3 separate regions of the Homo sapiens genome follow, and all the other regions are reported to be linked to region 1. The links are microRNA targets in miRTarBase. Many come from high-throughput screens and were not tested one by one. Region 1 holds a microRNA gene; each other region holds the end of a gene's coding sequence.
Evidence for each region. The annotated mature microRNA hsa-miR-1179 reads AAGCAUUCUUUCAUUGGUUGG and lies in region 1 at 2,140-2,160, opposite strand. An mRNA with a match to its seed (bases 2 to 7 or 8) in the 3' UTR can be bound and repressed. Matches are read on the target gene's strand: a 7mer-m8 pairs with bases 2 to 8, a 7mer-A1 pairs with bases 2 to 7 and ends in A, and an 8mer does both.

Region 1 (3,131 bases):
AGAGGAGGGTTAGTCCTTCAACCTTGAATTGTTTTAGAGACAAGGACCTGAGGGTACCATTAGAGAACAATGCTAACTAAGGTAACCCCTTGGTTAATAGGAGAGCTTAGCACCCTAGGTATTTCTAGGAAAAACAGGCCTTTCTTAGGGACCTGGCAAATAAACTTTGAGAAGTAATAGACAAGCTAAAATGCACCACAAAGAGAGTTTGGAGAGAACCACAGCATCTCTCTGGATGTCAGCTTGCAGGACTGACTGATCTAGCTTACATGAGCAACCCTGGCCCTAAAGCCACCACCCAAACCACTGCCCTGCTAGAAGCTCACTATGAGAGCAGGGACTCTCACTCATTATTCTTCCAAGTGCCTCGCGCACAGCCTGGCCCGTGATAAATGAAACTGGTTGGCAAAGAAGCAGAGTTCAGAGACAGAGTAGGATTGTGAGGTGTGAACAGGGTAAATCCATTTTCATTGGCTTTTTCCTTACAGATCCAATGAAGATGAATTTGAACTGATTGTGGCCCTAGTTTTCAAAATTCTTTAATTCTGGGCTCTATCTGAATTGGGAGAAGATGCAAGCAATAAAAGAGGCTGCTGTAGTCTCAAAGAAATATATTTTGAAAAAATGACCTGCCCTTGAGCCCACCAACTTCCACTCCCCACTTCTAATTTCTTTCCTCTGAATTTAGAGCTGTTCCCTTAGCAACGCTTGTTTCCATGGTTTCCTCCATGACAATGATCCCAAACCCCTCCTCTCTTTTACCTCATGACAGTAATGGATGATGGGGATCCTCAATGTGGCCACTCCATGTTACCATGGTAACAATTAACTGAGCCTTAATTTATCTTTTGTGAAGAGGGCTAGGGAATATGAAGCTTTTGATTTGGAGGGGGAGGGTCCAGGTCTAGAGCTACCATTCTCATAAAGAAGAAGATAAGCTATTTGTCTTAATACTAGCCAGTAGGATTTAGTTCAAACATTTGTTCAGCCCTACTTTAAGCACAACTGAGTTTGAGGGAATCAAAGGGGTACAAGACATAGCTCCTAATATTGAAGGGCTAATAGTCTAGCACTAGGGCTCATGGTACCGCTGAACTCTGGCACAGATGGGGCCAATAAAGAATATGGCTCTTGATAGCACCGTGATGATCAGGCATCTATCCATTCCCAGTATCCCCTCCTGCCAAGAACCAAAAAAAGACTGACTGAAGTGGTCTGTACTCACATTAAGACTTCTTCCGGGCTGTTATCAGAGAGTTTCTGTCCTGAAAGGGAAAGAACTTTGACTTCCCCTCTTTTAGGGAAGTGGGGACCAATGCCAGCATCCCTGAGTAGGACTATTTGGTGCAGGAAAAAAGAGAAAAATAAACAGACCTGCCCATTGCCAGTGCAACAAAGGACTGGGATAATCTCCAGTTCCAGGATAACCATCACCTACCTGCAACAAGTCTTCCTGGGAAGCGATGAGTCAGCTCTTACATTGAATTAAAGAGTCATTGTCTCCATCCATTCAGCTTTTCTATTTGTCACTGAAAATTCAGGCCAAAAGCGCAGCTCTGAAGAATGAAAGTGGAAAAACAGACAAATAAAAATCAAAGTGAAGAGGACACCAAACACCAAACACAAAACACCAAAGCTGAGAGCTGAGTAGAGTGAATCCACAAGCTGAGATATCCATTCTGCATCACAAGCAATGCAGTTCTTCCGACTTCTAGCTTTCCATCTTCATCTCCAAAAGTTTTCACCAAATCTCTAATAATGAGGACCAATTATCTATTTTTAGGGGAAATCACAAAATTCTCTGGACCCTCAGTGTGCTGGTAACAATAACCTGCACTGACTTGGAAAGATGATCACAGTATCTCCTAAAATGAAGGGGGAAAAAAGCCATAGGACAATGTATAAGGCAGGTATGTTGAAGTAAGCTGCGAATAGGTAGGTAAAAAATGTCATCCTTGCAAGTCAGTGCAATCTGGATTAGCCAAAGTCAATTCCAGATCCTGAGTCCAGGACTCTGAGTTCTGTCCTTTGCTACTGGATGGAACTAAGGCAGATTCAATCCTTCTGTGTACCCTGCTCACTCAGCTAGTCAGAAAAGGATAAATGGCATCCTCTTATTGGTTGACAAGGCAATACACACCAACCAATGAAAGAATGCTTCTTCCTTTCCAGCCAATAAGAGCTCAGTTATCTTCTTGAAAGTAGACCCTTTGTCCATAAAGAAAATAAGCAGAAAGTGAATAATAATTAAAAAAAACCACACAACTGTTGCTATGGGACATTACTGATGTGATCAATGATAGCTGCCCCGGACAATTCATAAAGGAAAGCACTTCTTTGGGAAGAAAAGTACAAAAAGCAGACCAGCTGTCTGGTCTGGTCTAAAGGGAAGTTTCTATAGTAACATGGGAGAGAAAAGCATTTTAAAAGCATTTTAATGTAAATACCCGCAAAACTATCAAGTCAGTTCACCGAGCGAATTTTTGACCTTTTAAACTTATGCTGAAATTATAATGAATAAAAATTCTTATATTAATAATAAATGAAGGAAATGGAGAGAAAAGAAGAGAACAAGAGGAGAAAAGAAAAGACCTGTGTGTTTATGGTTCAGGGCATCACAGATAAAGATATCACAGTTCCTGCCTGAAACAGAAATGTTCTCCAACCCCGTGTTGTCAAGTAATATCTCAGTTTAAAACAAACTTCTTTTTGTTGTTGTTATTGTTGCTGTTTTTCGGGAAAGAGAACGTTCATGGCACTTAGACTTATTTGAGATGAAACAGTGCACAGAGCACAGGCTGTTCTGGTAACTTGCTAGCGATTTCCTCTCAAATCATTCTGAGAATGTTACAGCTGCCTTTGGAAAATTATGAGTAAAATAATTTCCTACCCAGATGTTTCTAATGGACATAGGCAGGGCAAGGCTGACAGGTGAAAGTGGAGTCAATGTTTGTCAATCAAGGGAAACAGAAAAACTCAGAGGATTAGAAGCTTTAGGTGCTGTATTTGCTAATTATGAAGGCGATGCTGGGGAGGAAGAAGAGAAGAGAATCTTGAGGAATCAAATGAGAGTGATGCTAGTGTCCATCTGCTAAGGGAGACACGTTTCCCTCTACCTGTGCTTTCTATGT
Region 2 (3,131 bases), not on the chromosome of region 1:
TTACAGAGCGTACATTCATGATTTAGGAGGATTTTAGTTAAAGAAATTCTAGTCTTCGTGTAGACTATTATCTTTTAGTTAACCACATAACCTTGCCTAGGTAATAAGTAACGTGTTTTATGTTAAATTTCCTGAACAATATTCTTACAATATGTGAATAAAACCAAATTTAACTTTTTAAAGCCCTTTTTAGGATGTGCTTGTGCTCACTGTGTAAATTGTGATGCTCATCCTGCTGGTGAATTGTGAAAGTGTCAGTAGAGATTTCCAGATGAAAGAATGTTATCCACTTTTGTTGTTATTTAACACCACCATCATCTTTCTCTTTCAAAAATCATTTCAGATTGCCATTTACATTTGTAACTAAGGAAGTAGCTGAAGCCACATGTAATTGCCTCCTTGCCCAGGCAGAGCAGGCAGACAAGAAGGGAAAATCAAAGGCAGCAGCGGAACGGATGATACTTGAGGAATTCGGACGATGTTTGATGAGTGTCATCAACTCTGCAGGAAAGGCAAAAAGTGACCCTTGTGCCATGAATTGCTAACTCTTGCACAAAAGACTGATAAATGGAACTGTACAGAAAATTTAAGGTGCAGGGACACTTGATTTTCTGGAAGAAAAACAATTACTGTATTTTAATTCAGTCCTTGTTTTAAAAGACCTGAAATTATAATACTGAAGGAGAAGAAATTTTAAATGAGGAAATTAGTACATTTTAAATCTTAGTTAAATCTGCTTATGCCCCTTCTAAATTGAATTTTTCTTTATTATATAGATTTTTTAATTTGCTTGGGTTTCTTAAGAATTAGATGTTCTCTTTCTGATACCTTTGACAAAAAATGTTTATAAATTCATATAATTTATAATGTATGGTGTTGTATGACTTTGTTAATAGAAAAGCCAAAGCAGCAGTGGTTAGCACCCATTCTTTGGGACTTGATCTAGAATATCTGCAGACAGAATGTTACATAAACAAATTCTTATGAAACACATTCAAATGACATTTTGTATTTAGAAAAGGACTATCTTTTAAAGAAAAAGCAGCCTTTTAGGGCCGATTCTGGAATAATATCCTGTTGTCACTTTGGGAATGTCAGAAGGGGAAACAATCCCCAGGCACACTAAAAATTTTTTAAAGTTATTTAAAAAAACATATAAAATATTAAAGGACAGTAAATCTCAGAGGATGGGCAATGTGTTTCTATAATAAGGAAAGGCTAACAGATGCTCTGGGCTGTCTCCATTTTCTTTCAAAGAGGTGGTATGTATTTGAAGTAATAAATTGTCAAAGTGATTACTGGGTACTATTAAAATGATAGGTGGATATAAATGGAAGTAAACATTATGTAGTGATAATATAGAACCTCACATAGTAATCAAGTATAAAATTTGGCATGGGTGGAGAAACAAAGAATAGGGAAGCTGCAAAAGATGAATTTAGAGAAGTTTTCATCTATACAATCAATTATTTTTACAGACTTTTTTTTTTTTTTTTTTGAGACGGAGTCTCGCTGTGTAGCCCAGGCTGGAGTGCAATGGTGAGATCTCAGCTCACTGCAACGCCTCTGCCTCCCAGGTTCAAGCGATTCTCCTGCCTCAGCCTCCCGTGTAGCTGGGACTACAGGTGCATGCCACCATGCCCGGCTCATTTTTTGTATTTTTAGTAGAGACGGGGTTTCACCGTGTTAGCCAGGATGGTCTCGATCTCCTGACCTCGTGATTCGCCCGCCTCGGCCTCCCAAAGTGCTGGGATTACAGGCATAAGCCGCCGTGCCAGGCCCTTTTTATAGACTTTTGAACTAAGAGGTTTCAAACCAAATCGCAACTCTTACTTGATTTACAGAAATGGGCCTCCTAACAAAATTTTCAAAATTGTGGTGGGATTTCTTTTTATAAGGGAAGTTTAATATGGCATTATTTTCAGCCAGTGATTTGGAAGGTCTGTTTTCCTATAATTACTAAAATAACCTAAATCATTTTCAGTATTCAAAAACTCTATGAATTTAAGAGCCTGTTGTGACAGGACTCTTGATTTTATGACAAGAAAAAACCATGTTGGAATTCAGGCATTTTGTTAGGTACCTTAATCATCAGTAATTAGTATATGATTATTTCATTTCCTACAAGGACTCTATAGTTGTATGTATTAAGTGTGTATATATGTTCATATGAACATGCAAGATATAGGCAATAGAAATTAAGTAATCCAAAAGAGGATTCCGTTATTCACTAAAGTATCTTCCTTTTAAATTTGGATTTATAAAATCATAGTGCAGTAACTTTAAATGTAGATAGTTCAAACATTCTTAGCACCTCAATCTAGTATGTTTAATTAAAATTTGTATAAATGTAAATTAGTGTAAGAGGGTAAAATAATAATCAAGTTATTTTTCAAAAGATTGCAATAAGTTTTTGGTCTAAACTTAAACTTTGTTCATTTTGTACATACTCTGTGTTAATTCTAATTGCACCTTTGTGATGTGTATTTATATACAGTGTGCAGAAAATGTTCGTGAAATTTTGATTACAATTGTAGATTATGTATGATGGCATTGCTTACGAATGTTTTGCTTGTAAAAAAATTTCAAGGTGCAATCAAATGCTACTAGTTTTTCTGATTTTCAAAAATCTATCTATCTAAAATATTAAGCCTTTTCCTTCCTGTGTAGTACTTACTAAATAACTTTTTGTATTCAGGCATTTGCATCAAATTGCTGAACAAGATGAATAGCCACATTAATTCAATGATTTTAAAAGACTATTTGGGGAGGGTTGGGTATATAATTTTTTAGCTCTATTTACATCCCAAAGTAGAAAGATTAAATTTATATTTACTAGAGCTATTCAAAGAATACACTTTTCTATATTGTAAAAACAGGACAGCAAAGTAAATCATACAGAAAATAAACATTTATACTATTCTGTAAAAAAGGTTTTGCATTTTTTCTTTAGTATAATAACACCACTTTATTAACCATTTAATATGCAAAAAACCTTTTAAATTATCTGAAGTAAATTTGACATTACTTCTGAAAACACACAACTAAAAAATTCTATCATTTTGCTCAGTTATTACTAACATAAATTGCTTTGAAATGAGAATATGTCTTCTCTTTTTTTCCCCACTGTT
Region 3 (3,131 bases), not on the chromosome of region 1:
TCGAGGTGTTTTTTTTAAACTCTAAAATGTGAACGTTTCCTTCAGCCCTCCCACCGAAACAGAACGAACGACGAAACAAATAAAAACCCCAGATCATCCTCGTCAACGCAGGAAAACGACTTAAAAAAAAAAAAACTAAAAACGAACAAAAAAAAGGGAAAAACACTCAGCTTTCGTTATCCCCGCGCAGGGCGGGGCAGGCCCGGTTCTTTTAGCGTCCCCAGAGCCGCGAGGACATTACAACAAAAATAGAATTTTTTTTTCTTAATCTCTTAACATACAAAGATAGGAAAACTCTCTGATGCATTGCACTTGGTTCAATGAAAAAAAAAAGTTAATTTCCCCCATATATATTTTTGTTTTTTTTTTTTTCTCTCCTAACACGTCCCCACATCTCCTGTTGCCCTCATTGCCCCTCACAACACCACTTGGGAAAGGAGCAGCCCCCACCCCCTGCCCGCCCGGGCAGCCCCGCCGGGCACGCTCCGGCCCGGGCCCAGCTGGCCTGCAGCTTCCGACCTCGCCCGGGCAGGCGCCCCGCAGACCCTAGCTCCCACAGTCCCACAGAGCCCGAGCCCTCGACTGTCGTCGAGGGAAAGGGCACGTGGGCCGGACAGGGAGCCCCTTCTGCTTCGCTCTCAGCTCTGACCCTGTTTAGCCAACCGAACTGAAAAATCATTGCACTTTGACCGCGCGTCACGCCCGGCCCACCCGGCCCCCCACCCCCGGGGCCTTACTCCCCACGCCCCGGGAGACTCCCGCAGGATCCACTGCCCCTCAGCCCTGGGGTCCTCTAGGGCTGCACGCTGAGGACAGGGGGAGGGCTTCACTCAACTTCCAACAAAAGCCGCCCCTGGAGCCAGCCACCTTGTGGCTTCCAGCTGGGTAGCAGGCACCGTTCGCCTGCCGCTACGGCCCCAGGTCGCTGACCTCCTCCCCTCCCGTCACTCCCTCCTCTTCCCTCCCTCCGCCAGCTCGGGGCCACAGCCTCACAAACTAGATTCACAATAAATACAGCCCATAGCCCACCCCTACGTGGTGCAATGTTGATTTTCTCTCAGAGGATCCTGACCTGTGCTTTGTGTTTTCATACAATTAAGAAAGAGAGAGAAAGAGAGAGGCACAAGGACTCAAGAAGGGGCCAGGAACGGGAGACGCAGGAGGAGGAGTAAGGCACAGAAAGACAAGCCAGAGGGGCCAAGTCACACCCTGGAGGGGAGCTGGGCGTGCTCATCCTCCCCTCCCTCCCAGGGGGGCTTCTGAAGACCCTCTGGACAGGCCCCCCAACCCTCCCTTGAGGGAGGAGGGGGCTGGGGGGGAGAGCTACTTCCTGTGGTGTGTTACCAAATTGTTCCCAAGTTGCTCAAATGGAGGAGGAGTTCCCATTCCAACAGCAAAAGACCCAAACAATGAATGCCCCACCCCTAAATAAAGAGTAAAGACATTACAGCTAAAATCCAGAGAAAAGTGGCCACGTGGGGGGCGGGGAGGCGGGGGAAAGTCGGGGGGCACAGAAAGCTCCAAAACACTTTTGAAAAGGACGACACCCAACACCCTCCCAAGGAACTGAAAGTCGGCGAGCAGGACGCCTACCTAAGCGCAGGTGGTGGCTTAGCGCGGCAGCGGCGGCTGCCTGGTCCTCCTCGCTCGGCTCCGGGGTCCCCTTTCTGCTCCACCCTCCGGCCCGGCCCCAGCAGGGCAGTCTGCATGAGGGGCAGGGGCAGGAACTGATGGGGCGGAGCGAGGGCACCTGCATGCAGGGCTGGGGGCGGGGGCGACCTGGGGCCCGACTCCCCTCCCTCGTGGCAGGAAGGAGGCCCTCCTGGCCTGCAGAGAGAGGGGAAAGGGGGCCTGTCCCAGGCTGGGACGAGGCCGTCGAGAGCATTCCGACTTTTTCCTACGGACTGTACAGAGGGGTCCAGGGCCCCAGGACTGCTCTTGCGGCTCAGGGTGGGGTGTCAGAACACCCTCCATTCTGGGACACGCAACTAGCTCCAGGGGTCACCCCCTGCCCGCCTGGGGGCTTTTAGCCCAAGGGTGGGGTGGGGTAAGTGGAGGCTGCTCTCCCCCTCCTGGTCGGGAGCAGCTGGGGGAAGAAGCTGGAGCCTTGGCAGAGAGGGAGGGAGGGAGGGAGGGAGGGAAGGGCGGAGTCTGGAGGGGAGAGCCTGAGGGATCTAAACCCCATCATCTTTACAAGCTGGCCCTCCAGGCTCCCTAGGGCAGCTCCGGCTGTGTGGAGGGTGGGGTTCCCCTAGGAAGGGGTGAGGGTGGAGGCCAGGCCCCTTCAGAATTGTGCTGGTTGCTTTGTTTGGGGACTTTGTTCCTTCCCCAGAAGGCCGGGGCGGGGTCAGGGGGAGGAAGGCAGTTCTGCATCCTTTCTTGCTTTCTGTCCTCTACTTGACAGAGTCCATGTCGCGTGTTTCTTTCTGCTTGGCTGCTGGTGCACAGCTCCACCGAGACCCCTTCCAAGGGCTCTCTGAGAACTGGGCTGCTTCTGGGGCCCGCGGGGGTCCCCGGGCTGGAGGAGAGAAGGGCTGAGTGGCTGACGACGTGTAATTTTTGCTTTTCGGTGGGGCTGGGCTGGGCTGGGGGATTTTTCCATTCTCAAAATTTCTTCTCCCCCCTTTCGAGGAACCTCTTCTTCTCATTTTGTTGTTTCTTTTGTCGATCTTATCAGAGGAACCAGGACTGAAACAGGATGAAAAAGAGGCGATACTGAGAACAGCTGGGGCAGGTCCCATCTCACTCCTACCTGGCCCAGTGACCTGGCCCCTCAAGGGTCCAGCTCCCAAAGAGCCAGGGTGCCGGGCAGCCACCACCCACCTTGTTCCCATGGAGAAGAAAGGGCATCCCCATTCTCTCCCTCCCTCCTGCGAGAACCCCGCCCCCTCAGAGACTCTGCCCCTAGTGCTAGAGTCCAGCTGGCCTTCCCGTGGGCACTGTGCCCAGCGGGTGGGACCCCCATGGCTGGCGCTGGCACAGGCCTGAGATCTGGCCATGTTTCCAATTGTTTAGGTTTTTGTGTGGGTCCTGGAGGGTGGGGAAGATGCCAGGCTGGGGCTTTTGTACCCAGAGGGGTTTTAGGAATGGGTTGGGGGTGGCCCAGCTTCTTGCTGAGTTTTCTTTCTGTC

Region 2: miRTarBase lists LIN54 as a target of hsa-miR-1179. Seed matches in the 3' UTR shown: 7mer-A1 at 2,600-2,606.
Region 3: the mRNA of NFIX is a reported target of hsa-miR-1179. Seed matches in the 3' UTR shown: 7mer-m8 at 1,881-1,887.

What each region holds. Positions count from the first base shown.
Region 1 is chr15:88,607,150-88,610,280 of GRCh38, reverse strand. It overlaps MIR1179 (microRNA 1179), which reads right to left and starts at 2,174; the gene lies at 2,084-2,174. It also overlaps a transcript of AEN not described here.
Region 2 is chr4:82,925,516-82,928,646 of GRCh38, reverse strand. LIN54 (lin-54 DREAM MuvB core complex component) reads left to right here. Exons shown (of 13, transcript NM_194282.4): 13 at 344-3,131. The coding sequence ends at 545. Among named protein-coding and RNA genes, the nearest start is that of THAP9-AS1, 26 kb to the right of the region's middle.
Region 3 is chr19:13,094,192-13,097,322 of GRCh38, reverse strand. It overlaps NFIX (nuclear factor I X), which reads right to left. Exons shown (of 11, transcript NM_001365902.3): 11 at 1-2,688. The coding sequence ends at 2,674. Among named protein-coding and RNA genes, the nearest start is that of LYL1, 7.1 kb to the left of the region's middle. RefSeq lists an enhancer at 541-1,404 and a silencer at 1,716-1,805.